3 separate regions of the Homo sapiens genome follow, and all the other regions are linked to region 3. Evidence: fine-mapped expression QTL. A gene starts in region 3. Each other region holds a variant in brackets. All regions are shown on one strand. Distances are between the middles of the regions. Region 1 has its middle 44 kb from the start of RNASE1. Region 2 overlaps LOC105370397 (a long non-coding RNA gene). Region 3 holds the start of RNASE6 (ribonuclease A family member 6).

Evidence for each region. PIP is the estimated chance that this variant, and not a neighbour inherited with it, causes the effect.
Region 1: its variant is the best candidate, but not a certain one, in a credible set for the expression of RNASE6 in lung (TOPMed, PIP 0.72).
Region 2: its variant is the best candidate, but not a certain one, in a credible set for the expression of RNASE6 in monocytes after interferon gamma (Fairfax 2014, PIP 0.75).

The regions. Positions count from the first base shown.
Region 1 is chr14:20,841,354-20,852,143 of GRCh38, reverse strand. No RefSeq gene overlaps it. Among named protein-coding and RNA genes, the nearest start is that of RNASE1, 44 kb to the right of the region's middle. The variant G/A (reference allele first, on the strand shown) is at 5,303.
Region 2 is chr14:20,809,121-20,818,329 of GRCh38, reverse strand. LOC105370397 (a long non-coding RNA gene) reads right to left here. Exons shown (of 4, transcript XR_007064063.1): 4 at 8,429-8,491. Among named protein-coding and RNA genes, the nearest start is that of RNASE1, 11 kb to the right of the region's middle. RefSeq lists an enhancer at 4,061-4,561. The variant C/T (reference allele first, on the strand shown) is at 5,811.
Region 3 is chr14:20,776,061-20,786,850 of GRCh38, reverse strand. RNASE6 (ribonuclease A family member 6) reads right to left here and starts at 5,583. Exons shown (of 2, transcript NM_005615.5): 1 at 5,513-5,583; 2 at 4,384-5,156. The coding sequence starts at 5,151. The coding sequence ends at 4,699. The region is part of intron 1 of LOC107984671 (a long non-coding RNA gene); the gene reads left to right. RefSeq lists an enhancer at 4,439-4,508.

The DNA.
Region 1 (10,790 bases), 65 kb before region 3:
ACTTTGACAGTTATGCATAAAGCTGTTATGAACATCCATGTGCAGGTGTTTGTGTGGACATAAGTTTTTAACTCATTTGTGCAAATACCAAGGAGAGTGACAGCTGGATTATGTGTTAAGAGTGTGTTTAGTTATTTTTTTTTTATTTTTTTTGAGATGGAGTTTTGCTCTTGTTGCCCAGGCTGGGGTGTAATGGCACAATCTCGGCTCACTGCAACCTCTACCTCCTGGATTCAAGAGATTCTCCTGCCTCAGCCTCCCAAGTAGCTGGGATTACAGGCATGTGCCACCACACCCAGCTAATTTTTTGTATTTAGTAGAGACGGGGTTACACCATGTTGATCGGGCTGGTCTTAAACTCCCGACCTCAGGTGATCCACCTGCCTCAGGCTCCCAAAGTACTGGGATTACAGGTGTGAGCCACCGTGCCTGGCCTGAGTGTGTTTAGTTTTATAAGACACCTCCTTTTTTAACATTCTTCATTTTGGGTTTGTCTGATGCTTCCTTATGATTAAATTCAGGTTATGCATTCTGTTTCAGAATACTGCATAGGTGATGTTGTGTCCTCAGGGCAATAAGCCTGGAGGCATGAAACATCCATGTGTCCTGCAATGATGATGTCAGTTGTGATCACCCAGGGAAGATGCTGTCAGTTATCTTCATTATATAATTGCTATTTTTTTCTCCATTTCTACTAATAAACAGTTTGTGGAGGGGATACATTAAGGTCTTGTAAACACCCTGTTTCTTTTCAAAATTTCCCCTAGATTGGCTGGGCGCAGTGGTTCATGCCTGTTATCCCCACAGTTTGGGAGGCCGAGGTGGGCAGATCCCTTGAGGTCAGGAGTTTGAGACCAGCCTGGCCAACATAGTGAAACCCCGTCTCTAGTTAAAAATGCAAAAATTACCCAGGTGTGGTGGTGCATGTCTGTAGTCCCAGCTACTCGGGAAGCTTGAGGCAGGAGAATCTCTTGAACCTGGTAGGTGGAGGTTGCAGTGAGCCGAGATTGTGCCACTGCACTCCAGCCTGGGTGACAGAGCAAGACTCCCATCTCAAAAAAAAAAATTCCCCTAGATTTAGCATGCATTGATAATTCTTGCTTAATCCACTTTTTGCTATGGTAGTGACAAAATGATAATTTTTAAGTTTCTGCATGCCACATTTAACAGCTAGCTTTCAGCTTTCTACTGTAAGCAAAACCCTATGTTCTTCACATTGGTTTATTTGTGTTTATATTAATTGCCAGTAGGACTCACAAATTTTTATTTTTTCAATGGCTTATAATTCACTATTGTAGTTAATATTTTGGTGCCCAAATAGTCCCAGTATTGGCCACTGAGATCCGTTTCAAGCTACCTTCCGTGTCTCTGTGATATGCTATCCTTTCTGCTTTCTCAGGACTTCATTTTTTTGCGGCATAGCAATATGTTCCAGCCTCATCTTGCACCTGCTCCACCTCAGTCATTTTCCTAAGGTGCCCTGATTTTTTAGTGGGGGGATGGTGTTAGAGACCAAGATCTTGGTAGGTGTGTTCTTTGCTGCTGGAGTGTCTTTGTTTCAAGGCTTTTTTAGTGAACAGAGTTAAGAAATATATGCCCGCATTTATCCACAAAAGAATGTACACATACATAAATGTGTATGCATATGTACATATACATATTTAAAAAATTATTAGTTTACAGAGATACCTTTAATTCAATCCATCCTCACAGGGTTCTTCCTTGCCTTCCTCCCTTCCATAATTGCATGTCCTTTCTTCCACAGCGTGATTAACAACATTAACCCTTGTACTTATTTGCTCACTCTTATAATAAATCAAAAGTAGTTTAAGAATGCTTTGTTCATACCACTATAGTAAACAAGATTGCTAAAAAAAGGTTCAGGATATGAACTTTTTTTCTACCCCCACTTCACTCACCCTGGTTAAGACTGCAGGTTTATACCTAAATAATAAAATCAGGAGAACTAATAAAAGTATTGCTTAGTAAGGCCAGGTGAGGTGGCTCATGCCTATAGTCTCAGCACTTTGGGAAGCTGGGGCAGTTGGATCACTTGAGGTCAGGAGTTCAAGACCAGCCTAGCTAACATAGCAAAACCCTGTCTCTACTAAAAATACAAAAATTAGCTGGGCATGATGGCTTGCACCTGTAGTCCCAGCTACTCAGGAGGCTGAGGCAGGAGAATAGCTTGAACCCAGGAGGCAGAGGTTGCAGTGAGCTGAGATCATGCCACTGCACTGTAGCCTGGGTGACAGAGGGAGACTCCATCTAAAAAAATAAAATAAAATAAAATAAAAAGTACTGTTTAGTAAGTGTGTTATGCAATAACAGATAACCAAAATGATGTTATTAGCTTTAGGTTATGCAGTGGCACTGGGGCTCAAATTCCTGCCTAAATTGGGGCCAATTTCCCTAAAGCCCATGCCTTTTTTTGTTATATTATGTTCCACAAAGTCACAGTTGACAAGTTAAGTGGGCATAGAATCAGGAGCAGCAAGAAGTGGGTTAGAGACTGAGATGATAACGGACGGACAGCCAGCCAGGCAGGTAGTTTTGGCCATCATGGAGAGAGCACTCTATTTTCTCCCCTTAGGCTGGCCATTGGGCATGATGGACAGATGACAAGGAGCATGCCCTAAGGAGCTGAAAGGTCAGTGAAAGTTCACTGCAAATCCAGGACCTCCCCCACAATAGCCTATTCCACCTACTCTTCGCTCTCAATCCAATTTTAAATACTTTTCTTTGGAAGGGGACATTTTTTGGAACTTGAGCAGCAGCTCAGAAATGTGAAACAAATACCCCACTGTTTGCTGAGAACTTAAGTCAATAATGATTTTATTATTCAGGCAAATAAGAGCTGCAACTCCGGTCATCTGAGCTGGCTGACCAGCTTCCAGCTCTGAAATAGCAATTTCAATGGTCTGCTTTTCTGAGGACAGGGCAAACTGGGGAGATTTGAGGCTGCCCAGTGAGGCTCCTCCAGGAGCCTGACAGGGATTAAGGGTTCAAGAAAGAGTTCAAAAGAAAGGGCACCACAGGGGAGCACAGGCAAGACTGCTGCTGCTCTCTCTTGGTAGTTTCCTTCCTCTCCCCGGCCGCCCTCTGTCTACCACACAGAAGGTTAGTACCCAAAGAACCTTCCAGGGCAAGAAAAGCTGCATTGTTTAAACACTTGTTCCTCCAGCTTTCATCCACCTCCTTCGTTTCCTTTCCACAAATTTCCATGTTCAGTGTTTCCCCTGGAAGACTCAGGCACTGCTGTGGCTCCCACAGTCACCCATGTGGAGAGATGATTAATTGTACACAGTGCCCCAAGTCTCTCAGAAACACCACTTTGAACTTCTCCCTGTCTGCTGCACCTTCCCCCAGTGTGACTCTCAGTGTGTCTGCAGTGACTCATAACCTTTGGAAGATGCCTTAAAGCAGGCTCTGCCCGCCTGGTATTCCTTGACATGTCCCCCTCCTTCTGTGCTGCTCTCCAGTTCTATATAAAGATAGAATGAGGGAACTGTCAGTCTATCTTTCCTGCCCAGTCAAAAACTTCAATCATTGTCACTCCTACTAATTCAGAATGTAAACTTAACTGTTTCTTTTTTGAGACAGTTTTGCTCTGTCACCCAGGCTGGAGTGCAGTGACTCAATCTCGGCTCATCGCAGCCTCTGCCTCCCAGGTTCAAGCGATTCTTCTGCCTCAGCCTCCCGAGTAGCTGGGATTACAGGCGCATGCCACTATACCCGGTTAATTGTCATATTTTTAGTAGAGACAAGGTTTCACCATGTTGGCTAGGCTGGTCTCGAACTCCTGACCTCAGGTGATCCACTTGCCTTGGCCTCCCAAAGTGCTGGGATTACAGGCATGAGCCGCCGTGCCAGCCAAACTTACCTGTTAATTGTGACCTTTTCAGAAGCTATATTAAACTGGTAATAATAACAATATAATGATATCTATGGAGAGCTTACTATGTGCTCTGAATAGGGTGCCCATCTAATTTACTGTCTGAACTGTGATACTTTTGAGAGTGAGAAGGAATACTACTAGTAATTAAGCCAGGACAGCAGCATACATAGAGCAGATCCTGGGCAAACTGGGACATATGGTTTCATAGCTGGGAACTTAAATCAATAATTATTTCATTATTCAGGCAAATAAGGCTGCAACTCTGATCACTGAGCTGGCTGAACTGTTCTAGATGCTTTACCTGGGTTATTTTATTTAGTTCACACAATAACCCTTTGAATAAGGTGCTTTAATTTACAGATAAAGAAACAAATTACAGAAGATCAAAAATCACTTATCTTTAAAATACTAAATCAGGACTTTTGTCTGTAAATCTGTACTCATCCAGAAAAATATCAGTCAGTATTACAGGAAAGATTAAAAAGGTGAACCGACTCTACACCCCTCTTTAAATCCACCCCCAATATACATATACATTTCAGTTATTCTTTATTATTGTTTTGTGAGTTATCCAGCTTGTCTGTTTTACAGATCACGGAGCTGGGGCCAGGTACGGTGGCTCATGCCTTTAATCCCAGAACTTTGGGAGGCCGAGGCGGGCGGATTGCCTGAGCTCAGGAGTTTGAGACCAGCTTGGGCGACACGGTGAAACCCTGTCTCTACTAAAAATACAAAAAAATTAGCCGGGCGTGGCAACGTATGCCTGTAGCCCCAGCTACTCGGGAGGCTGAGGCAGGAGAATTACTTGAAGCCTGGAGGTGGAGGTTGCAGTGAGCCGAGATCACACCACTGGACTGAAGCCTGGGCGACAGAGCGAGACTCCGTCTCAAAAAGAAAAACAAGAAATTACAGTTGTGATATACGTTGAATTACTTAAGAAATATTCTGGCCGGGCACGGTGGCTCACGCCTGTAATCCCAGCACTTTGGGAGGCCGAGGCGGGTGGATCACGAGGTCAGGAGATCGAGACCATCCTGGCTAACACGGTGAAACCCCGTCTCTACTAAAAATACAAAAAAAAATTAGCCGGGTGTGGTGGCGGGCGCCTGTAGTCCCAGCTACTGGGGAGGCTGAGGCAGGAGAATGGCGTGAACCTGGGAGGCGGAGCTTGCAGTGAGCCCAGATCGCGCCACTGCACTCCAGCCTGGGCGACAGAGCGAGACTCCGTCTCAAAAAAAAAAAAAAAAAAAAAGAAATATTCTGAGAGATGAATGTCATATTTTAATATGTGTAATGAATCTGAATACAGTAGCTGTGATTTAATGCACAGGAAGTGAGCCCTCTCAGTGACAGGTCACAGGTCATTCCGTACCAGTTATCTTTCCCCATGATCCAGACAACACA[G/A]GTGATGCACACATTCTCCGAACCCTGTTTCAGAACAAGTCTGAGGCAAAGGGGGATAGTGACTTAAGTTCCAGTTGTAGAAGTAGGTTCCATTGCTGAAAGGACCTTCCTCTTCTGTTCATATTCTTGGTCAACTTCCTTGTTTCTTGGCTGCGTCCGTTTCCATTTTGGTACCTACTTCCCTTCCTTTCTACCATTCTTTTTTTTTCTTTCTTTTTGAAGAGACAGAGTCTCACTCTGTCGCCCAGGCTCAAATGCGGGGGCATGATCTCAGCTCACTGCAACCTTCACCTCCCGGGTTCACTCAATTCTCTTGCCTTGCCTCCTGAGTAGCTGGGATTACAGATGCCTGCCACCACACCGGGCTACTTTTTGTATTTTTAGTAGAGATGAGGTTTCACCGTGTTGGCCAGGCTGGTCTCAAACTCCTGACCTCAGGCGATCCATCCACCTTGGCTTCCCAAAATGCTGGGATTATAGGCGTGAGCCACTGTGCCTGGCCTCCAACATTCTTATAGGTAGGACATTCTCCTGTACCTTTGCCTGTGAGCTGGATCCCATCTTTGCCCAGTTCCTGAGACTGTGCTGTATCTGTGCCCTGTATTTCCAGTGTCTTCTGTACTGACTCCTTAGGATATGGACAATCTCATGTCACCTTCTACGCAGCCTTCCGAAACTACTTACCAGTTGGCTCCTTCTCTTCATTGCCAAGCTCCTTGTTGACTCTGTTCCTTTAGCTCTAATATTCTCTTCAGCTGGAAAAAGGACGCTCTGAAACTACTGTAGCAAAGAATCCATGACCTCCTGATTTTCACATCTAATCATCTAATAAAATCTTTACTTCTTAAGCATTTTTTAAAAATTATAAGGTACATTATATAACACACACACACACAGTCACGCACACGTACCAGAGTGCCAAAATCATACATGTAGGCAAAGTTTAAAGAATATCTATGAGGCAGACACCCTTTTGACTTCTGCCAAGGTCAGAAACAGAACAATGGCAGTATTTCTGAAGCTCTCAACCATGTGCTCTTTCCTGACCACGGCACTTTCTTTCCCTCCAGAAAAAAAAAAAATTATGCTTGAGATAACAATTTCCTTTCTTCTTTTTATAATTATATCACTTATGTATCCGTCTCTAACCATTACAGTTTAATTTCACCTGTTCTTGAATGCTATATAAATAGAATCTCATTGTATATATATTTTTTGTGACTGAACTACCTTATGTTTATTCAATCCATTTATGTTGCTACAAGGGATATATTTTGTTCAATTTTATTGCCCTAAAGGATTCTAAAGCATGACTATGCTGCAATTTTTATCATTTCTATCTTTTCATTCTCCAGAGTTCTGAATTCTTACATTTTTGAAGTATTTCTTGTAAACATCATAGAGTTAGATTTTCCTCCATCAGTGTTGTGTTTTAACTGGACCATTTATATTTATTGCAATTATTCATCTCCATCTTCCTCAGTGTACATCTATCATCTATTTAGTCTTTTCTATTTGTCTCGTTTGTTTGGTATTTCTTTTTCGTCTCCTGTTTTCCCTTCTTTTGGATTAGTTGTGTATTTCTATATCACTCCATAAAAGCCATTAAGGCTAATCACAGGTGTTTAGTTCTCTTGTTCCAGGCACTTAGAAGGATCCTACTTCTTTGTCCCTTGTACTTAGATGTGACTACGTGACTTTCTGTGGTCAATTATGTGTGAGTAGAAGTCATGTATGTCCCTTCTTGCAGCAGGATCAAGAGTTGGCCTGCAGGTTACCATGCTTTCTTCCCTTTGCCTCTGTTACTGTGGAATTGTGTGTCAGGATGAAGCCTGTGTCAGCCTGTGTTCCCAAGTGACTATGGTAGGGAGAACCCCTTTGCTGGACCATGATGGACGTGTAGGAGAAATGAGTAATAAATCTTATGCCACTGACATTTTGAGGTTCTTTGTTACTGCAGCACAAGTAAGCCTATTCTAACTGATTCACATTTCACTTATTCTCTCTGCTAGTTTGGAATGTATACACGGTGTCTCTATTCCTTTAATTGTTTATCCTAGAAATTTCAGCATGCATACTAAACATATAAAAATCTATTATATTTTAAAAATCTAATTATTTTAAATATTAATTTTAAATAAAAATCTAATTCATATTTTAAATCATCTCTTGTACTTGACTGAATTTTTTTTCTTTTTTTTTTAGAGACAGGATCTTACTATGTCACCCGGGCTGGAGTGCAATGAAGTGATCATGGCTCACTGCAGCCTCTAACTCCAGGGCTCAAGTGATCCTCCTGCCTTGGCCTCCCAAAGTGCTGGGACTACAGTATGAGCCACTGCACCAGGCCCACTTGACTCAATTTATAACATTCTCAAATTGTTACTGCTGTTGTATATTTAATTTTAATTTTAATTTTATGTTTTTAATTCTATAAGACATTATTGCTTTATAGAGTCAAAAAATTTATATTTGCTCACATATTTATTTGTTTTTTATTTTCATTTATTTATTTATTTTTTTTTAGATGGAGTTTCACTCTGTTGCCCAGGCTGGAGTGCAGTGGCACAATCTGAGTTCACTGCAACCTCTGACTCCTAGGTTCAAGTGATTCTCCTGCCTCAGCCTCCCCAGTAGCTGAGATTACAGGTGTGCACCAGCACGCCTGGCTAATTTTTTGTATTTTTTAGTAAAGATGGGGCTTCACCATGTTGGCCAGGCTGGTCTCAAACTCCTGACCTCAAATGATTCACCCACCTCAGCCTCCCAAAGTGCTGGGATTACAGGCGTGAGCCACTGAGCCCAGCTGCTCACATATTTATTTATCATGCTTTGTTTTTTTTTTGTTTTTGTTTTTGTTTCTTTAGGAGACAGGATCTTGCTAATTTCCCCAGTTGGATTTGAACTCCTGAGCTCAAGTAATCCTCTGACTTTGGCCTCTTGAGAAGCTGGGATTACAGACACATACCACCACGCCCAGCTCTATCATGCTTTCTGTGTTTCATTCTTTCCTGAACTTCAGATTTCCATCGAGTAGCTTTTCTCTTCAGCCTGAAGTATATCCTTTGAAATTTCCTTTAGTGAAGGTCCACTAGTTATAAACTCTATTAGGTTTTTTTTGGTCTGAAAAAGTTTTATTTTACCTTCATTTTAAAGTGACATTTTTGCAGGTTAGATAATTTTAAGTTGGCTGTACTTTTCTCTCAGTCGTTTATTTATTTATTTTTTGAGACAGAGTCTCACTCTGTCTCCCAGGTGGGAGTGCAGTGGTGTGATCTTGGCTCACTGCAACCTCTGCCTCCTGGGTTCAAGCCATTCTCCTGCCTCAGCCTCCCAAGTGGCTGGGACCACAGGCGCCCACCACCACACCTGGCTAATTTTCATATTTTTAGTAGAGACAGTGTTTTACCATGTTGGCCAGGCTGGTCTCAAACTCCTGACCCCAAGTGATCCACCTGCCTTGGCCTCCCAAAGTGCTGGGATTACAGACATGAGCCACTGTACCCAGCCAGTAGTTTAAACATAATAGTTACTGTTTTCTGGTTTACCTGGTCTCTTGAGAAGTCAGAAATCAGTCTGTCATTTAATTGAAAGTAATCTTAAAAACCTTGGAGTTTATCTTTCTGATTATAGTAAATGTTCCTGTTGTGACTCTCATTTTTATAAATGAGTTGCCTAAGCAGAATCCCTAGAGTCATCATTTCTCAGGACTTCTGCACTTCTTCTGCTGTTGGACATTCCATTAGTAACAAAGGAAGATCCTGCAAGTCGCTTTATTGTCCTCTTTGCTATAACCTGGGATTCAAATGTCAACACTTTTGGGTATCCGTGAACATTTACGGACAAAGACTTGAGACTCAGAAAATAGGATACAATCATAAAACTTTTGATGTTAAACAGGAATTGATATTTCAAAAATTATTATTTCTTATGTCTTGTACTTGATATATGAAAATAAAAGCTCAGTCTATATTTTAGTTTGTCTAGGTTTGAATAGCGAATATATACTCCTTTCTAGCCTGAACTTAAACAAGTTAGTGAACTTCTCCAAGCTTGCTCAAGTGTAAAGCAGACATAATACTAGCATCTCTCTCTTACTGTTACTGGGAGTGTTCAAAAAAATTAAATTGCTACACAGGACAATGTAATCCTGTGTTCTATTTGACTTCCTCCTTTCTCTCATTGCCCTAAACCAATCAATCACCAAGTTCTGTAGATTTTTCTCTCTTCCATATCTTTAACTTCCACTGCTTTTCATTCTCACGGCTTATTTAGGGCCATCCACATTTCTCCTAGATCGTTTACTGTAATTGCCTCTTTGATAATCTCTCTGTGCCCAGGCTGGTCCCCACTTTAATCCATTCTCTACTTTACTGCCGGAGTGCTCTTTTTAAATAATAAGTCTGACACCCTATTTAAATGTCTTTATTCCTCAGGATTAAATTCCAGTTCACCCCTCTCCTCGGTCTGGTCCTTCCTTGCTCCCTTCTCCAGCCCCTGTAGACTTCTACTTCAGCCACGCAAGCAATCCAGGGCTTTCAGGGCCCACTGAGCCAGGTCCTCCTCGTTTACAGGCCATTGACGTGCTACTGGATTTGTCAGGAAAGTTCTTTCCCTCAACATTACATAACTCCTACTCATCTTTGGGTATGCACTCAGCTGTGACTTACCATAGGAAAAATTTCCTAAACCTGTCAGAGTGGGGTAAAGTGCTCCTTTGGGATCTTTAGCACCAGGAGTCTTCTCTTCTCCCCTCCCTTTCCTTCCTTCCTTCCTTTCCTTTCCTTTTCTTTCTTTTTTTTTTTTTTTTCAGAGTTTTGCTCTTGTTGCACAGGCTGGAGTGCAATGGCGTGATCTTGGCTCACTGCAACCTCTGCCTCCCGGGTTCAAGCAATTCTCATGCCTCAGCCTCCCGAGTAACTGGGATTATAGGCATGTGCCACCACACCCGGCTAATTTTGTGTTTTTAGTAGAGACAGGGTTTTTCCATGTTGGTCAGGCTGGTCTTGAACTCCCGACCTCAGGTGATCCGCCTGCCTTAGCCCCGCGAAGTGCTGGGATTACAGGTGTGAGCCACCGAGCCTGGCTTAGCTCTAGGAGTCTTTCACGTAACATTATAATTTCCTGTTTATTTGTTTATATTCCTCAACAGACTGCAAAATCACTGAAGGTAGGAACTGTGTCTCACTCACTCTTGTATCCCCAGTTCCTAACACAACCTCAACACTGGGGAAGCCCTCAATTAATGTTGGGTAAGTAAAGGTACTTATGACAAACTATTAGTTAGCATCCAAGTCCTGTCCTGTACTTATGCAACTGATTTTGTTTCAAGGGCACAAAATTTATACTTGTGAAATTTCTTGTTACTGGATATAATCCACTGCTTCAGACTGGTAAGAACTTTGGATCTTGATTCCATCATCCATGTTATTTGCTCTCCCTGACTATCATGTCATCTATTATTGTGATGAGATTTTGCATCTTCATC
Region 2 (9,209 bases), 32 kb before region 3:
AGCACTTACTCTTCATGCTGCCTTAGCTTTACAATAAAAGCTTTAAATTCCTGTAAGTGTGAATACACTGTGGCATTTAGTTTCTTCATAGAAAGATAAAACTTTGTGAATTGTATTTAGTGTGAACATACACAAAATCCATACTGGGGTAAAAATCCATTTTTTTGCTGGTCTTTCACAGGAATTTAGGAGTATGGGGGAAGGGGTATAGGTGAGAACTTTGTCTCTTTCTGTGTATCTGTGTTTCTGCACTAAGGTGTGGGGTTTGTTTTTTCAGTTAGACCAAAGGCAATTGATGAATACACTCACAAAAGTAACTCTGGCTCTGTGAGAAGCATAAAAGTCTTAAGAAACTAGATTTCCTATTAAGATCCAACCTTTCTTCCTTAGAGATATTGAGGGGAAGATCTTTAGAAGGAGATAACATTAAAAAACAGACGGGCCAGGCGTGGTGGCTTACTCCTGTAATCCCACCCAGCACTTTGGGAGGCCAAGACAGGCAGATCACCTGAGGTCAGGAGTTGAAAACCAGCCTGGCCAACATGGTGAAACCCTGTCTCTACCAAAAATACAAAAATTAGCTGGGTGTGATGGCAGGCACTTGTAATCCCAGTTACTTGGGAGGCTGAGGCAGGAGAATCTCTTGAACCTGGGAGGCAGAGGTTGCAGTGAGCTGAGATTGTGGCACTGCACTTCAGCCTGGGCGACAGAGTGAGACTCCGTCTCAAAAGAAAAACAATAACAACAACAAAAAACAAACAAAACTCAATGTTTTAACTGGGAGCCATCTTAGAGATTGTTGTTCTTTACTCTTTAGGGGATAATACTAAGACACAGGGAGGTCACAAGACTTGACCTCAGTCACCAAGTGACCTACTGGCAAAGGCATCAAGACCCAGCTTGTGGAGGGGGCTGGGTTATGTGTGGGGCTTGTAGAAAACAAATCCCACACCTTAGTGCAGAAACACAGATACCCACACTTTTCCTCACATGTGTATGTGCTAAGTAGGATACCCGCTTCTGCTCACATAAAACAACCAGAGCTCTGCTGAGGTCTGCTTTTTAGCATCTGTATGAGAGATATAAATAGGTAAAAGAAAAAGAAAAATAGGAAGTAGAGTTGAGTTTGGGGCAGAACCAGAATGGCAGAGAGAGGTTGAAGATTGGCCCTTCTCCATTTTTTGGGATCTTTCTCTCTCGTCTCTCTCTCCTTCTCTCTCTCTCTCTGTCTCTCTGGGTGTCTCTCTCTGTCTCTCTTTCTGGCTATCTCTCTGTCTGTCTCTCTCTGTCTCTTTCTCTCTCTCTCCTGCAAGGAGCTGCTCTCCTCTCTCCTTTCTTCCGTTTGGACCTCTGTGAGGTGTGTGTGTGTGTGTGTGTGTGTGTTTCTGTCTCTCTCTCTCTCTCTCTCTCTCTCTCTCTCTCTCTCTTGCAAGAAGCTGCTCTCCTCTGTCCTTTCCTCTGTTTGGACCTCTTTCTCTGTGTGTGTGTGTGTCTGTCTGTCTTTCTGTCTCTATCTCTCTGTGTCTCGCTCTTTTTCTCTCTCTCTCAAAAAAAAAAAAAAAAAAAAAAAAAGATTGGCTGTTCTGGAGAAGTGACAACTGTCAGGCCTCTAAGCCCAAGCTAAACCATCATATGCCCTGTGACCTGCACGTATACATCCAGATGGCCTGAAACAACTGAAGATCCACAAAAGAAGTGAAAATAGCCTTAACTGATGACATTCCACCATTGTGATTTGTTTCTGCCCCACCCTAACTGATAGATGTACTTTGTAATCTCCCCCACCCTTAAGAAGGTATTCTTTTCAAGGTCCTGTTTCACTTGCCTCCATAGCCATTGTGGATATTGACGGCCAGGCTGCTAAACCTCTTAAAACTCCCCAACTCTGGTGCCAACTTGGACAACATTCTTTTATGCACTCCTTTTAAGTTATCCCCACCTGCCCACCTCCCTTATTATGTCGAGACTTTTTAACTAAATTATCTGCTTCCCTGACTATTCCTGGGCTACAGCCACACCTCATTGCCACCCTTTTCCCCAGTTCAAAGCCTCCTTCGCATCCTTCCCCTTGTATCTCTCCACCTTAATCCACAAGTATGGGATACCTCTACTCCCTCCTTGGCAACCGATCATGCACCCCTTGTCATCCCATTAAAACCTAATCACCCTTACCCTGCTCAACACCAGTATCCCATCCCACAGCAGGCTTTAAAAGGATTAAAGCCTGTTATCAGTTGCTTGTTACAGCATGGCCTTTTATACAGGTTAGTTCAGGATTTGCACCTTATCAACCAAATTGTCTTGCCTATCCACCCCGTGGTGCCAAACCCATATACTCTCCTACCCTCAATACCTCCCAGCCTCACAGGCCCATTCTATTCTGTCGTTGTTTCATAACCCCTTCCATGTAGGTTACAAGCCACTAGCCCGCCTCTTAGAACCTCTCATTTCCTTTCCATTGTGGAAATCTATCCTCAAGGAAATCACTTCTCAGTGTTCCATCTTCTATTCTACTACTCCTCAGGGATTATTCAGGCCCCCTCCCTTCCCTACACACCAAGCTCGGGGATTTGCCCCTGCCCAGGACTGGCAAATTGACTTTACTCACATGCCCCGAGTCAGGAAACTAGAAAACCTCTTGGTCTGGGTAGACACTTTCACTGGATGGGTAGAGACCTTTCCCACAGGGTCTGAGAAGGCCACCGCAGTCATTTCTTCCCTTCTGTCAGACACAATTCCTCGGTTTGGCCTTCCCACCTCTATACAGTCCGATAACGGACCAGCCTTTATTAGTCAAATCACCCAAGCAGTTTCTCAGGCTCTTGGTATTCAGTGGAAACTTCATAACCCTTACCATCCTCAATCTTCAGGAAAGGTAGAACGGACTAATGGTCTTTTCAAAACACACCTCGCCAAGCTCAGCCTCCAACTTAGCAAAAAGGACTCTGTCAAAAATAGAGCCCAAAAATTCACCAACCAAACAAGTAATTACACTGAACCTCCTTGGACACTCTCTAATTGGACGTCCTGGGTCCTCCCAATTCTTAGTCCTTTAATACCTGTTTTTCTCCTTCTCTTATTCAGACCTTGTGTCTTTTGTTTGGTTTCTCAATTCATACAAAACCGCAACCAGGCCATCACCAATAATTCTATACAACAAATGCTCCTTCTAACAACCCCACAATATCACCCCTTACCCCAAAATCTTTCTTCAGTTAAATCTCTCCCGCTGTAGGTTCCCACACCACCCCTAGTTCCGCTCGACGCAGCCCTGAGAAACATCGCCCATTATCTCTCCATACCACCCCCCAAAATTTTTGCCGCCCCAACACTTCACCACTAGTTTGTTTTGTTTTTCTTATTAATATAAGAAGACAGGAATGTCAGGCCTCTGAGCCCAAGCTAAGCCATCATACCCCCGTGACCTACAGGTATACATCCAGGTGGCCTGAAGCAACTGAAGATCCACAAAAGAAGTGAAAATAGCCTTAACTGATGGCATTCCACCATTGTGATTTGTCTCTGCCCCACCCTGACTGATCAATGTACTTTGTAACCTCCCCACCCTTAAGAAGGTTCTTTGTAATCTCCCCACCCTTGAGAATGTACTTCGTGAGATCCACTCCCTGCCCTCAAAACATCGCTCCTAACTCCACCGCCTATCCCAAAACCTGTAAGAACCGATGATAATCCCATCACCCTTTGCTGACTCCTTTTTCAGACTCAGCCCACCTGCACCCAGGTGAAATAAACAGCCTTGTTGCTCACATAAAGCCTGTTGGTGGACTCCCTTCATACAGACGTGTGTGACACGAACCATGTTCAGTGGGCAGGAATTCAGCCAGATTGGATTGGAGTGATGGAAGCAGGTCAGACAATGGGTCAGAAGGCTGAATTTAGTGACAGATAACAGGCTCCATTTAAGCAAATGTGAGTCTTGTTCTCTAAATGAGATAACACTGGCCTCTCTTCACCTTGATAGACCTGATAGGCTCCCCCATCCATGTGCTTTGTCCCTTGGCAATATGTCCTCCTATGGGAAAAGAGGTACTGTCATGCCATTGTGAGAGTCCTCAAGATTAACAGAAGGAGGAGGCAGGAGATGGCAGATGTGAAAGGAAACATTGCTTTCTTTTTCTTTTTTTTTCTTTTTTTTTTTTTTTGAGATAGAGTCTCACTCTATCACCTAGGCTGGAGTGCAGTGGCATGATCTCAGATCACTGCAACCTCCACCCCCTGGGTTCAAGCAATTCTCCTGCCTCGGCCTCCCTAGAGGCTGGGATTACAGACATGTGCTCCCACGCCCGGCTTATTTTGGTATTTTTAGTAGAGACAGGGTTTCGCCATGTTGGCCAGGCTGGTCTCTAACTCCTGACCTCAAGTGATCTGCCCACCTGGGCCTCCCAAAGTGCTAGGATTACAGGCATGCACCACTGCGCCCAGCCAGAAACATTTCTAAGCAATGATTTTCCTCCAGACCTTGCTTCCTTGATGAAGCCAGCATGTGAGACCTCTTCAAAGAGAGGGAGGCTACTGCTTGGAGCAGGTGTCCTCCTAGAGGCCTCGTCCCCCTAAGAAGGCTTCCCTTCCTCCAGTGTCGCATTGGAATCAACAAATGCCCCCATGGACTGAAGAGCGGGAGGCCTGACCTGCTCACCCACACTCCAGCTGCGCCAGTGAAGGGCCCCTAATGAGACCTCAGTAGGAGTCCCCAATCCTCCAACTCCTCAGAAGGGGTCAGCAGCAAAGCCATCTGTTTTCTCCCACCACAATTCCCAGCAGGAAGAGATGTGGGGGGACTCTAGGGGAAATCCAGACCTAAAAGAAGAGATCAGTTTCACCATAAGTTCAGCCCTTTGAGTGCACATCCTGGAGGCAGTCTCCCCACTTGAAGCATACTTGCCAGCATGGTATAGTGAGAATGCTGCCACAGAGTGGGGAAGCCAGGGACCGAGGATGCTTTCCACCTCTGCTGCCAAGGTGCTGTCTGACCTTGGTCTGCCCCGGCTCTCAGTCTCCTCCAATGGGCGGAAGTTACTTTCCATTGCTTGGGTCTTTTTGTTCCTTGAGTTCAAAGGTAAATGTCCATATTTTCTTTCACGTGGGAGTCCTGGTCAAAAGTTCATACTTTGACGACCTCAGCAATAAGCTCTTAGAGGGGCTGGGGCAGGTGGGCTGTCCCTTAGGGAAGGGATGAGAGGCACTGGTGCCTGATCTAGAGGTGAATGGTGGTGTTGGGTTGAGTCAGGGATAGGAAAAGTTCTCAGAAAATGGATGAAGTCAAGAGACCACTGAACAACCCAGGCTGAAAGGGAATCAGGTCTTCTGTAATCAGGAACCAGAGATAACGAAGTCTCTATCTTTCTATAGACACCCTGGCAACATTTGATTTCCATTTTAAAAGACCAGGGCTGGTCTGTGGGGTGGGAAGGGACCTATGGAGAGTGAGGAAAACTGGTAGTGTCAGGAGGCTGGGATGGTGGCACCAGAGGAGGTGGAGGCCCCCTGTGTGTTCTGGAGACCAGATTGTTGACTGCACCTGGTGTGCTCACAGGCCAGTCAGAGCCACTGTCTGGGAAAGTAGAACCTGTGCTTGGTGGGCCTCAGCCAAGGGCTCAGGCATCAGAACCTCTTTCTCTCCCAGTTCATACTGTGGGGTGGGGGTGGGGTGGGATTGGGGGTGGGAGTGGAAGCCTAATGGACAGAGAGGTGGAGAGTCTTATAAAAGGGGAATAAACACAGGAATGATAGCCAGCACAGCCACGGTTGCCTTTTCCCCTTCAGTAATTGGTTTGTCACATGAGGCAAAA[C/T]GTTGCAATGTGGACGGGAGACAGAAATTAGGAAAAACTTGCATAATGTTTCACTGGGGAGGGGGTTTCTCAGTTGAGGCCCATAAATGCTTAGTTTTGGATTGGGCTTGAGGGGCTATACTGTCTCCTAAGAGACTCTTTAGCCCATAGGATCATAAAATCTCCCAAGCTCCTGCAGTTCAAATTGACCTTTGCTCCAGTCAGGAAAACTGTGTAGATTGGGACGGGGGCAGATGTGTTTCCTGAGAGAACATGGGAGGGGTGGGCCTTCCCACAGCCTGTCTCTGAGGAGGTTCCTTGGGGCCCTGAGCCCTTGGGTGTGGTGTAGCTCTAACCGTCTAGGGCTGCCTTTGGCTTTAGGAGGATTTCAGGGATTCATTTCCAGGCACTCTGTGAAAAGGGCAAAAATGTACTTCCCTTCATATCCTCACCGAAGCCTGGCAGCAGGCCAGTCACTGGTGCGGTTTCCTGACATGACTGTGGTCTGGGGAGACCACCTTGAACTCTGAAGTTTGTCCTCCCTTCAAAAATTCAAACTTGGGACCTGGATAGCCCAGTCATGCTCAGTGACAGAGAAGTTGGCATTTTGGGAAAAGTACTAAGAAATCTGATGTCTTCACTGCAGAGTCACTTTCTAAGGAGGAGACTCAGGCTCCCAAGAACATGAGGTAGGCCAGTTGCACTCATACCTTCTGGAGCCCACCAGACTCCAGCTCCTTGTTTCTCACCTTCCTGCAATTGGATGTTTCCCCCTCACACCATTCCTTCGCACTCAGGCTTATCACAAGTTTCTGCAAAGAGATTTTGGGGAGCCAGCAGATGCTCTCCCGAAGAAAATGATTCAGCTATATCCACCCTCACTGAGTGAAGTCCTTTTAAATAGGAGCTACATTTTTTTTTTTTTTTGAGACAGTGTCGCTCTGTCACCCAGGCTGGAGTGTAGTGGTGTGATTTCGGCTCACTGCAACTTCTGCCTCCCCAGTTCAAGCGATTCTCCTGCCTCAGCCTCCTGAGTTGCTGGGATTACAGGCATGCACCACTATGCCTGGCTAATTTTTGTATTTTTGGTAGAGACGGGGGTTTCACCATGTTGGCCAGGCTGGTCTTGAACTCCTGACCTCATGATCTGCCCACCTCAGCCTCCCAAAGTGCTGGGATTACAGGCGTGAGCCACCGTGCCTGGCCCTGACTGGGTTCTAAATGATTCTGGATTCTTAAGAATAAAAGACAGACAGACAGACAGTCTCTGTATAGATGTGTGGAAGAAGCCAGACAGGGAAGGAGCTCAGGAAGGAGAGGCTGAGAACTGAAGACGAAGCACAGCTTTTCTGAAGCTGCATTCCTGCCCCTCACATACCTTCAAACGCCCTCAGACTCAGACATACTTCCTCAGACATGGCTGAGAATGAACTCTTAAATGTATCTGTCCCAAATTCTTTAATGTCTGAGGCCACTGAGAGACAGAAGAGAGAAAGAGTCCCCAGACGGAGGGAACTTAAGATGGAGGTCTCTGACTCTGCCACTTCCACTGTAGCCTCTTGCCCAGTTCTGCTCCTTGATCCATCATAGGTCAGCATTAGCCAGTAAGTGGCCTAAGCGCACACGATTCAGGGAAGAGGACTCTGCAGGCCAGAAATGAGCTTCCTACAAAAGAGGAAGAGTTGGTTGGGTGTGATGGCTCACACCTGTAATCCCAGCACTTTGGGAGGCCAAGGCGGGCGGATCGCTTGAGGTCGGGAGTTCAAGACGAGCTGGGCCAACATGGCGAAACCCCATCTCTACTAAAAAGAAAACCCCACAAAAATTAGCCAGGCATGGTGGCAGGTGCCTGTAATCTCAGCTACTCAGGAGGCTGAGGCAGGAGAATTGCTTGAACCCGGGAGGCAGACGTTTCAGTGAGCTGAGATGGGCAACAGCTGTCTCAAAAATAAAAAATAAAAAAATAAAAAATAAAGGGAATGAGTTGAGGGATGTCATCTTGGCTGTTATCCTACTTTATCTTCATGGGCATCTGGGTTGTAGGCAATGGGTGAGAGGCGTGGGACAGCACGGGCTTCGGATCTTTTTTAGCTGGTTCTTGCATTCTTTCCCCTCACTTCCTTCAACTTTCAAACACCACTCCGCTCCCTTTGTCTGCCCCCACTGTTCCGTCTTTTCCTGTTCTAATTTTCCTTTGCCTTCTCACTTTCTGGGGTTCAAAAGGAATCCCGGAATATCATCTATTGTATGTGTGTGTGCATATTGTATGTACGTGCATGCAGGGTGTGTGTGTGCTCGTACATGTGTATTTGGGGGGCTGTGCTGAGCTTTTGTAGCCAGCCTAATGATAGGACATCCTTCAGATTATCTGAGCTTTTCTTGTAAAAACGTCCTTACCCTGTACATACCCACTTCCTTATTCTTCTAAAGAGCTTGTGGAAATGAGCACAGCCACCCAAATGAGAATAAGCAAAGGCTGTTTATTCAGAGTTGGCCACAGATGGCAGGTAACCACCATCACTTGCATTTGGCAGACACTCACAGTAGGCAGGAGAGTGGGAATCTTCACAATGGAAAACAGGAAAGGCTTCAGGGATGCTCTGGTTGCAGGCTGCGGCATGCAGAAGCTGTAAGTGGGCTACTGGAAGCAGGGCATCCTATGTGTTGGATTAGGGATGCATATTGGCTTTCTCTGATTGGTCCTAATTTGGGGAAGCGGAAATAAATATTAGGGAACTTTTCAGTTATTAATCAAGTCCATAAAGAGAGACTTTCAAGCAAGGAAAAAATTAAGAAATAAAATAGGGGTAATCAAGTCCTAGCTGTTTGGGGCCAATTGCTATAGGAGTTGTTTGGCTTCCTGGATTGTTTGCTGTATATAGTGGGTTGGCTTCTCATACTTATTGCTGGAGACTACAGGTCAGAGTTCCATCTTTATATATGGTCTGGTCATTGTTCATTTGTATGGTCAGTCTTTCAGTCCCTCCTTTTGGTCATTCTCTGACTTCTGAGAAGTTGACCAACTCAGAGAAAGTTAGAATTTCACATCTTCACCAATCATAAATTGTTCAGTCATCTTCATAGTGACCTGGATTGTAAGATCTTCTTGATCTTTCTATTGTATCATTATGGCAATCATCTGATGACAGAGTGGCTGCTAGAAGCATTTAAAACTCTGGATAAAACGGAACAGACTAGCATCATGACCACTATCAGAAAAATAAGAAACAATTGATAGTCCCTCTGAGATGCTTTAGAACCAGGAACTCCAATTGCTTAACCTAGGCCAAGAAAACAAATCCCATAAGCCATGAGGACCTTAGAGATCCAAATATTAATAGGTTTTTTTTTGAAGCAATATAGTCTTTTTTTTTTTTAACCTTGCCTGTGTCCTTGACCTAAGTATCACAAGAAGCACTG
Region 3 (10,790 bases):
TATGACATCTCTAACCAGGGCTAACTCACCTGGAACCAGTCCTGGCCCCAAGACAACACTACAGACATGAGTCCTGAAGCTCCTTAGGGCTTCCTGTGCTGGAAGGAAGGGTTGAGGGTGGGAGAAAGCCCCAAAGGAGAGAAAGAGAATAGGATCCCATGCGGATCTCAGGCCAGGCACTACCAGCCTGGGCTGACTGCAGCCACTGATGAGAGACTTAGAAAATGTTGAGAAGGGTATTCCAAGATGCAACGGGGTGCCTGAGGAACAGGCGAGGCCAGAGACCCCATTTGGCCAGCCTTAAGGGCAGTTCTCTCTAAGCCTCTCTTCTGCATGGTCCACAAGAAAGGCTCCTGGAAGCTATTTTTTGCAATGTGATTCTGTCCGATGGTCATGTCTGATCTATGGATGGGATCAGTCAGAATCCCTTCAAAAATAAATAATATTTCAGAGAAAATTAGAAAGTGAGATGGAAAGGGATGACTGTCTACTTACTGTGTGAAAAAGAAAAGCAGAGGAAATGAGTACATTGCAGAAAAAGACTGAAACAGGGCACAGAAAGGAATATTAAGAATTCATTACGGTCGGGCGCGGTGGCTCACTCCTGGAATCCCAGCACTTTGGAAGGTCGAGGCGGGCGGATCACGAGGTCAGGAGATCGAGACGATCCTGGCCAACATGGTGAAACCCGGTCCCTACTAAAAATACAAAAAATTAGCCGGGCGTGGTGGCGGGCGCCTGTAGTCCCAGCTACTGGGGAGGCTGAGGCAGGAGAATGGCGGGAACCCGGGAGGCGGAGCTTGCAGTGAGCCCAGATCGCGCCACTGCACTCCAGCCTGGGCGACAGAGCGAGACTCCGTCTCAAAAAAAAAAAAAAAAAAAAAAAAAAAAAAAAAAATCATTACTTTCCTGAGGCCCCAGTTCAAAATTCTCAGCCTGCCAGGTGTCGTCCTTCCTACTGAATTCCAGCCACCTGCCTCAGCCACAGCCAAAGGACAAGATCCATTGAATAGTCTAGAAGACCAGGAATCAACACACTTTGTTCTATAAAGGACCAGACAGTAAATATTTCACTTTTGTGGAACACATAGGGTCTGTGTCACTTCCTCTCCTTCTTCTTCCTCTTCTTCCCCTTCCTTCCCCTCCCTCACGTCTCTACTCCTTCCTTCTTCCTGTTCTTCCCCCCCTCCTCTTCCTCCTCCTTTTTCTTCTCCCCCTAAAAAAGTAAAAATCGGCCAAGCACGGTGGCTCACGCCTGTAATCCCAGCACTTTGGGAGGCCGAGGCGGGTGGATCACGAAGTCAGGAGATCAAGACCACGGTGAAACCCCGTCTCTACTAAAAATACAGAAAATTAGCCGGGCGTGGTGGCGGGCGCCTGTAGTCCCAGATACTCGGGAGGCTGAGGCAGGAGAATGGCGTGAACCCGGCAGGCAGAGCTTGCAGTGAACTGAGATCGCGCCACTGCACTCCAACCTGGGCGACAGAATGAGACTCCGTCTCAAAAAACAAACAAACAAACAAACAAACAAACAAACAAATTAGCTGGGCGTGGTGGCGGGTAATCCCAGCTACTCAGGCGGCTGAGGCAGGAGAATCGCTTGAATCCAGGAGGTGGAGGTTGCAGTGAGCCGAGATCCAGCCATTGCACTCCAGCCTGGGCGGCAGAGCCAAACTCCATCTCAAAAAAAAAAATAAAAGTAAAAACCACACTACTCCAGGCAGTATAAAATAGGCGCGGCAGGCCAGAGGTCTGCAGATGTAGTTTGCTTACCCCTGCATCAACAGTTGTTACCAATATTTGCTGCCCATTACAATTACATGGGGATCTTTAACAAACATCCATTAGAGCCCAGGTCTCACCCCCAGATATTCATTTAATTGTTCATTAAATGTTCATAAAATTTATTTAGTAGATCCCGTCATTGGTATTTTTCTAAAAGCTCCCAGGTGAATCTAATATGAAGCCAGAGTTGAGAGCTGCTAGAACATCTGCTGAATTCACTTCTAAGCTTTGCCTGCTTTGGGATCATTCTGTATATTCTAGGGATATATCTAAGTGAACTTCTTAGCAATTATGTATTGAACTTCTGCAATACATAACTGCATGTAGAAAAGAAAATAAATCTATGAGAGATTCCATCCCAGTCTATTCCACTTGTTTAGAACTAATACCTTCTAAAAGTTTGGGCATAATAGATTGTTGAAAAGTTACCCTCATTGTTGCCTTTTCCTTGATCAGCAACAAAAAGTGACTCTAATTGTTGTTGGGGATAGGTTTGTCATGGGAGGGTGGGGAAGATTAGATATTGTTGCTGCAAATCTCTTCAAAAGATGGCACTCATTATATTTTTGTTTTTAACCATTTGTTACAAAATATTTGCAGTATTTTAGACCTCACAATTTATTTCACTAATTTTAAGTAACATTTCATGTTCCCTAATGTTTCTGACAGTTGAAAAATTTTTGCAGCACAGATGTATTCAATCCATGAGATACCTTTACTATATAAATAACAATAGCATGAGCAATTGAGTTGTTTGGTTTTACTAGATTACCTTTAAGAATCTCTGGCAATTTCCAGGTAATGTTCATATAAATCCATTCAACCCCTTTCCTTTCAGATGCTGCTACTTTCGTATACTTGTTCATACCAAACGTGAGCACAGATTCTCCCTGCCATTCCACCACACTTTACATGAAGACTCTGAGACAATAAAATGTAAATGCAACATGGCTTAAAGCTGAATACAACTGAAAGCTGCTTTGAGTTAGAGCACTCAAGTCCCACTGTAGGATTCCCTCTATAAGGTACCCACCTTCTTAGGTGCCATATTGCCCTGACCTGCTAATCTCTTCCCAATGGGAGGGCCCTTGATCAGTCATCACCCTGGAATCCAGGCTCCTGAAACCTCATATTCCATTCTTTGTTCCTAAGATATGACATAAATGTGTAGCGTAAAGGAAGGTGAGCTGAGTTAGCATATCTATTAAACTAATAGTCTGGCTTGGAAAGAATCATTTGCAGCACAGGTAATGAAGACACTACAATATGTAGCCTTTTCAAAAAAACTTCATTGTCTTTGGCTGCTACTTGAAGACTCATCACTGTACAAAGCACTTGGGATTTACACTGGCCCACTAGCCCAATGACTCTAGAGGTTGACAAGGAAACTGAAGTTCCTTCTGTGAAATGGCTTAGTTCAGGTTCTGTTCCAAAACCCCAATACTTCTGTGGTATTTCAGTATTTACATAGGACTAGAATGTTTTTAGTTTCCTAGTGCTTTTTTCTCTTTCTTTCTTTCCTTTTTTTTTTTTTTTTTTTGAGACGGGAGTTTCGCTCTGTCACCCAGGCTGGAGTGCAGTGGTGCAATCTCGGCTCACTACAGCCTCTGCCTCCCAGGTTCAAGCGATTCTCTTGCCTCAGGCTCCTGATTAGCTGGGATTACAGGCTCCTGCCATCATGTCTGGCTAATTTTTTGTATTTTTAGTAGAGATGGGGTTTCACCACATTGGCCAGGCTGGTCTCAAACTCTTGGCCTCAAGTCGTCTGCCTGCCTCGGCCTCCCAAAGTGCTGGGATTACTGGTGTGAGCCACTGCATTGGGTCTCCTGGTGCTTTTCTCTTTTTCTTTTTTTGTTTTTGAGATGGGAGTCTCACTCTGTTGCCCAGGCTGGAGTGCAGTGACACAATATTTGCTCACTGCAACTTCTACCTCCTGGGTTCAAGCGATTCTCCTGCCTCAGCCTCCCGAGTAGCTGGGATTACAGGCACTGCCACCACGCCCAGCTACTTTTTTTGTATCTTTAGTAGAGATAGCGTTTCACCATGTTGGCCAGGCTGGTCTTGAACTCCTGACCTCAGACGATCCACCTGCCTCAGCCTCCTAAAGTGCTGGGATTACAGGCGTGAGCCACCACGACAAGCCTAGTGCTTTTTTCTTGATCTATGCTTTCTATTTATCCATTTCAATAAATAATGGAGGATTGACCCTAAGGTTACTACAATGGATTATTATCCCTATTACTACTACTATCACCTTATATTTAAAACATTATCTGATTAAAAACGGAAACAAATAGAAAAGACATAGGATCCTTCAGTTGCCAGTGACAGAATCTATGTGTGAGTTATCATCAACTGTCTTTGAGGTATCAGTACTACCTCCAATTAAGCATAGACAATGGTTTCCAGGGGAATATATAAAGTCATGAGCAGAGTTTGAAGAAATGCTCCAAAGTCCCAAACGCTGTCCTTTCTTGTGGGCAAGGAAGTGGGGCCCCAGGGAGGCCTCAAAAGTTTTCTAGGGACTTAAAGTCAAAACAGTGTTCCTCTGAGTACCGGTCAACAATGCTTTGAAAGCGGATCTCAAACACACACTCATTAGAATGCAGCAGGAAGTGGTTTTATTGCTGTGAACACAGGGCAATAAAGCTTGGCAAAAGTTGCAGGGTTAGAAATCTGAATCTTTCTTTGCTGTCTTCCCTATTCCCTTCTCTCGAAAAGTACAGAACTACAAAGCAGAAAATAATCTTATTTCTTTTTGTCTCAACTCTGGTCTGGCATCCTAGGCACTCGAATTCTCCAAACACCTTTCTTCTTTCTTCTACGGGAACAAGAAAATCAACAAAAGAAAAGAAAACATGGATGCAATTGTAACAGAAGCTATGTCAAATGAAAGGAAATGCAGTGGATGCCTTAGAGAATACTATCTAAGTGTACAGGAACCAACTTGTAGGGGGGATCGCTCTTCTGAGGGGGGTCACAGGCAACAATGAAGAATTTGTACTGGGCAGCAGCACTATAGCGGCACTGGGGATACTTTCCTGAAGTGAGTCTGCAGTCAGTCATGTTGACAGGCTTTGAGCTCTGGTGGCAGTTGTGCCGACGATTTTTGCAGACAATGCTGAGCAAATCACAGACAGCAGCCACATTCTGGAAAGAGTCATGCAGAAAGGTATTTTGATGCTTACAGTGCTGGGTATAATTGTTGATGCCACTCATTGCCCTGTTGCATTGGAGAGGACTTGGCTGTATATGCTGAATTTCAAACCAGTGAGCCTTGGTGAGACGCTTAGGCCAAGCATGAAGTGGACACACTGGTCCCCATAGAACCAGCAGCAGTAAAAGAAGAGGAAAGCATAGCACCATCTTTTCTGTGTAGAAAGAGAGAAGATAGTTATAGTAGGAGAAGCAATAAGAGCAAAATTTTTAATCATAACTATTTAGATTTTTATTTTGCCTTTTAAGATTTTACAGCTCCCTTTAAAATCTTCTTTCTCACATAGTCTCACAATTCTATGAAGAACCTGAAGCCCAGGAAACAGAAATATGACCTCTCCTTTGATTGGCATATCCCATTTTCTTTCACAAGTACTCATGCATTTGATGGCTGTCATATCAGAAAGTTTCTTCCCTCTTCCCTCCTGAAATATTTACCCTCTATCTGACCACTACCTCCCAGCCGTCTTTACTGCTCTACTCGCTCCAGCCCTGAGGCTTTCTTTCTTACCTGGTCTCAGTGTTGGGGCTCCTGCTGAGAACAGAGGCTGTGATTAGTCCAAAGCTCAGAAGCTGTTGTCTGCCTTTCTTCTCTAACCCTTCGAGCCCTGTGTGTATAGGGAAGGGGAAGAAATATTCTGAGCTTTCAGAAGGAGAATCCTAGGGTTTGGCAGATTAACTTCTTGTGCAGAGTCTGGATTAAACTCTTAGACTTTCACACCTGTTCTTTAAAACAGTATCATTATCACATGTATACAGGAAGGCTAAACCAACTTAAAGAAACAACATGACTGAAAACTCACAGTTTTGAGGAACTGATCACTTCCTGATATGGAATGAGTGCTTCCTGCCTCATCTGAGGCTTCAGTGTTTTTTTTTGAAGCTTTATGATTCCTGTTTCTTAAGAGAAAATATGTCACATAAATATGATATAATGCCTGCCACATACTTGGTAATGTTGTAAGTTCCTACAACAGAAGTGAATACATTATTCATTTATGCATATACTTATTGGGCCAGGTACTAGGCTACACAAATTCAGGAGCTCATGAGTTTTTTTTTTTTTTTTTTTTGAGACGGAGTCTTGCTCTGTCGCCCAGGCTGGAGTGCAGTGGTGCGATCTTTGCTCACTGCAAGCTCCACCTCCTGGGTTCATGCCATTCTCCTGCCTCAGCCTCCCGAGTAGCTGGGACTACAGGTGCCTGCCATCACGCCCAGCTAATTTTTTTGTATTTTTAGTAGAGACGGGGTTTCACTGTGTTAGCCAGGATGGTCTCTATCTCCTGACCTCGTGATCTGCCAGGAGCTCATGATTTAATGAAAGAGATTAGAGACAGGCAGGTAAGTATATAGACAAGTAGATTATATTAATATAAATAGCACTTACAGTGTGATGGAGGACACTGCAGGAGGCTACGGGAAGATAGTAGAGGGGAAGGATTGTTGGAGGGCACAACACCTGAACTGAATTTTGAGGAATAATTAGAAGTTAGGTGAAGAGAGTGTTAAGCGCCTCCCAAAGACAGAATTGTGTATGAAAAGACCTGTAAGCCTGAAGAAGAAGGCCGAATTTAGGATATTTGCCTCTTGAATCTGTTCTTACCTTTTCACTGGTACTGCAACACCCTTATTCAGAAACTCATTGTCTTATGGAGGGCTCACATAAAAGCCTCCCACATGGACTCCTTGCCTTGTTTTTTTCTCCTTCCAATCCATTCTACATATTACTTCCAGATTAGTCTTTTTTTGAACAAGATATAATAGTACAACACTCTTGCCCCATGCTTTTATGGCTCCAAATGTCTGCAGAATAAACATAATGTCTGTTTATAGCAAGGTTGCAGGATACAAGGTTAATATACAAAAGTCAGTTGCTTTCTTATATACCAGCAATGAACAATTGCAATTTGATATTTAAAACACAATACCATTTATATTGCACCAAAGAAAGTGAAATACTTAGGTGTAAATCTAATACATTATGTAAAAATTGGTATGAGGAAAAATTTAAAACTCTAATGAAAGAAATTGAGGAAGCACAGATATTCCATGTACATGAGTAGGAATACTCAATATGTTAAGATGTCATTTCCTCTCAACTTGATCTATAGATTCAGCACAATCTCAATCAATATCCCAGCACATTATTTTGTGGATAGTGACAAACTGACTCTGAAGTTTATATAAAAGTAAAAGATTCAGGTTGGACACGGTGGCTCACGCCTGTAATCCCAGCACTTTGGGAGGCCGAGGCAGGCTGATCACGAGGTCAAGAGATCAAGACCATCCTGGCTAACACAGTGAAACCCCGTTTCTACTAAAAATACAAAAAATTAGCCAGGCCTGGTGGCGGGCGCCTATAGTACCAGCTACTTGGGAGGCTGAGGCACGAGAATCGCTTGAACCCGGGAGGTGGAGCTTGCAGTGAGCCGAGATCGCACCACTGCACTCCAGCCTGGGTGACAGAGCGAGACTCTGTCTCAAAAAAAAAAAAGATTCAGAATAGTCAACACAATGCAGAAAAAGAAGAACAAAGTCAGAAAACTGACGTGACCCAACTTCAAAACTTACTATAAAGCTACAGCAATTAAGACAGTGTGTTATTGGTGAAAAATAGACAAATAGGTCAATGGAACCAAGTAGAAAGCCCAGAGGTAGACCCACACAAATACAGTGAACTAATCTGTGACAAAGGATCAATTTTCAATTGAGAAAAGTTAGTCTTTTCAACAAATGGTAGTAGAACTGAATGTACACATGCAAAAAATAAATCTTTTCATAGGTTAGACTTCATACATTTTCATAGACCTGTACTTTATATCTTTCACAATTTTTTTTTGAGATGGAGTTTCGCTTTTGTTGCCCAGGCTGGAGTGCAATGGCATGATCTTAGCTCACCACAACCTCTGCCGCTCAGGTTCAAGTGATTCTCCTGCCTCAGCCTCCGGAGTAGTTGGGATTACAGGCATGCACCACTACACCCAGCTAATTTTGTATTTTTAGTAGAGACAGGGTTTCACCATGTTGGTGAGGCTGGCCTCGAACTCCTGACCTCAGGTGATCCGCCCACCTCGGCCTCCCAAAGTGCTGGGATTACAGGCGTGAGCCACCGCGCCTGGCACAAATGTTAATTCAAAATGGACCATAGACCTAATGCAAAATACAAAACTACAAAAATTCTAGAAAATAACATAGAAGAAAATCTAGGCAGCCTTGAGTTTGGCAATGATTTTTTAGATACAATACCAAAAGCACAATCCATGAAAGAAAAATATTGATAAGTGGAACTTCATTAAAATTGAAAACTTCTGCTCTGCAACAGATACTATTAAGAGAATAAAAAGATAAGCCAGAGACTGAGAGAAGATATTTGCAAAAGATATATCTGATAAAAGAACATTATCCAAAATATACAAAGAACTCAAAAAACCTCAACCATAAGAAAACCAACAACCTAGTTGAAAAATGGGCAAAACATCTGAATGGTATGGGGCAAAGACAATTTTTCCTCTCCCTCTGAAGGTTCAAAACTTCTGAAATGAACTGACAATAGACAGATTAACAGGAGAAAAAGGCATACAAATTTATTACTGTGCATAATCATGGGAACCATACAAATTATGAGACTCAAAGAAAGACTAAATAGTTGAAATTCATGTATTCTCTTCATAGGGGAGAGGAACATGGGGAAAATGTAGGCAATTTTGAGGAGTTTTAAATATTTTTTAGGGAACTGGCCCCAAATAGCAGACAATAGTTTGTAAATGAGTCTCTTTGGAAGCTGAATGGAAGGGTGACGAGTTATGGGAAGGTGAAGGGTGGAACTGCACTATGAACAAAGGTTGCCTTATTATACAGATAAAGTCTCTTAGGTACTCTTTTGGAGCTGCTCTTGGAAGAATAGATGAAAGGTCTATCTGAGTGTGGTGTGAAGAGACTTCTAGTCTCTTCTTTTTTTCAGGTGGCTAATATTTCCTGGTTATCTGATGAGATTTTTAGAAAGGGGGGTCTTAAGACAATTGCATTTCTTGGAAGAAGTTTTCCTTATCCAGACAAGGGAACTTCCAGAGAGAGCTCCTCTCTGCATTTGAGAGCTGGGGGAGGAATGAGAGAAGATTAGAACATCTTTGGTCCTGAGGCAGCTTCTAAGAAGTTTTGGTTTCTTTAATTCTTTAATTCTAGTTAAATTTAATTCTTTAATTTAATTTCTTTAATTCAAAAGTGCTCAGAATGCCATGCATCATAGTTTGTAGTATGATTCTCTGTACCCCAACACTTCACCAAACAAGATATACAGATGGCAGATGAGCAATGAAAAGATGTTCAGCATCACATTGTTTGGAGAAAAACTTTTCCTCTATCATTTTAGGTTTTAAAGGTGGTGGTAAAGGAGCTTGTGAATTAGAAAAAGATTAATAGGAGAAAATTCAAAGTTTATTTACACATGCACACAGGAGTATTACATAATGCGTAACTTGCTGAATAGCCAGAGGTAAAGTTATATATCAACTTTAAAAAAAGTGTTTTTGGCCAAGTGCAGTGGCTCATGCCTGTAATCCTAACATTCTGGGAGACTGAGGCAGGAGGATCACTTGAGGCATGGAGTTTGAAACCAACAGCATAGCAAGACCCCCATCTCTATTTTTTAAAAAAAGATTTGGCCGGGCATGGTGGCTCACACCTGTAATCCCAGCACTTTGGGAGGCCAATGTGGGCAGATCACCTGAGGTCAGGAGTTTGAGACCATCCTGGCCAACATGGTAAAACCCCGTCTCTACTAAAAATACAAAATTTAGTCAGGCATGGTGGTGGGCACCTGTAATCCCAGCTACTCGGGAGGCCGAGGCAGGAGAATCTCTTGAACCTGGCAGGCGGAGGTTGCAGTGAGACAAGGTTGCGCCACTGCACTCCAGCCTGGGCAACAAGAGTGAAAGTCTGTCTCAAAAATAAAATAAAATAAAAAATAAAAGATTTTTGTTGGGGCTTCAAAAGGAAAATATGGAAGGTTCTAGTAAGCTTTCTGATGCTAATAGAAATGGGTAGATTGATTTCTTCCTGGCTGGAAGTTTCCCTGTATGGGGGTTTATGGAAGCTAATTTACACATCCCAGTGCTAAGGGGCTGTCTCGTTTCAAACAGGAAAATACCTTTGAAGGGGATCAATGGCAGCTGAATTTTCAAGAGGCTCTGGTTAAGTTTAAATAGTGTTTCTTTCTGCAGCTTCTGTCTGTTCAGACATTTTCAGTTTAAAATAATTTTCATGCCACTATCATCATAACAGATTTGTTACTTGATGCACAACAAATGGATATATTAAGAAAACAGGGATTGAAAAAGAGAGAGTTTAATTTTCATAGGGCAGCCAAATGAGTAGATGGGAGGTAACCTACAATTTGGTTTTGGGTTTGGGGATAGGGTTTTTAAGGAGTCTGGACAAGGGCCAAAATGTGAGCATTTCTGATTCATCAAGAAGTGAGAGGTGAAGTCATGGGACAGGGACATGAAGAAACTCAGCATTCATGTGCCAAGCCAGTTCCTTGGTAGGGGTCTTTAGACTGGTTAGCATTAGCTGTTGCACTGGAATTCAGGATCAGAAAAACACCTTAAGCAATTCTTAAGCAAAAAGATTTCATGATTCTAGTATTGGAGATTCTACCTATAGGAACAATCGGGGAGTAGGTGGTCAGCATGCTACTTGGGAAATTAGAAGCTACAGGGAAGTGGGTTGAAGTGTACCAGCATGCTATGATTAATGTGCAATTCTGCCTAGAGCCTGGCTTGCAACACTCC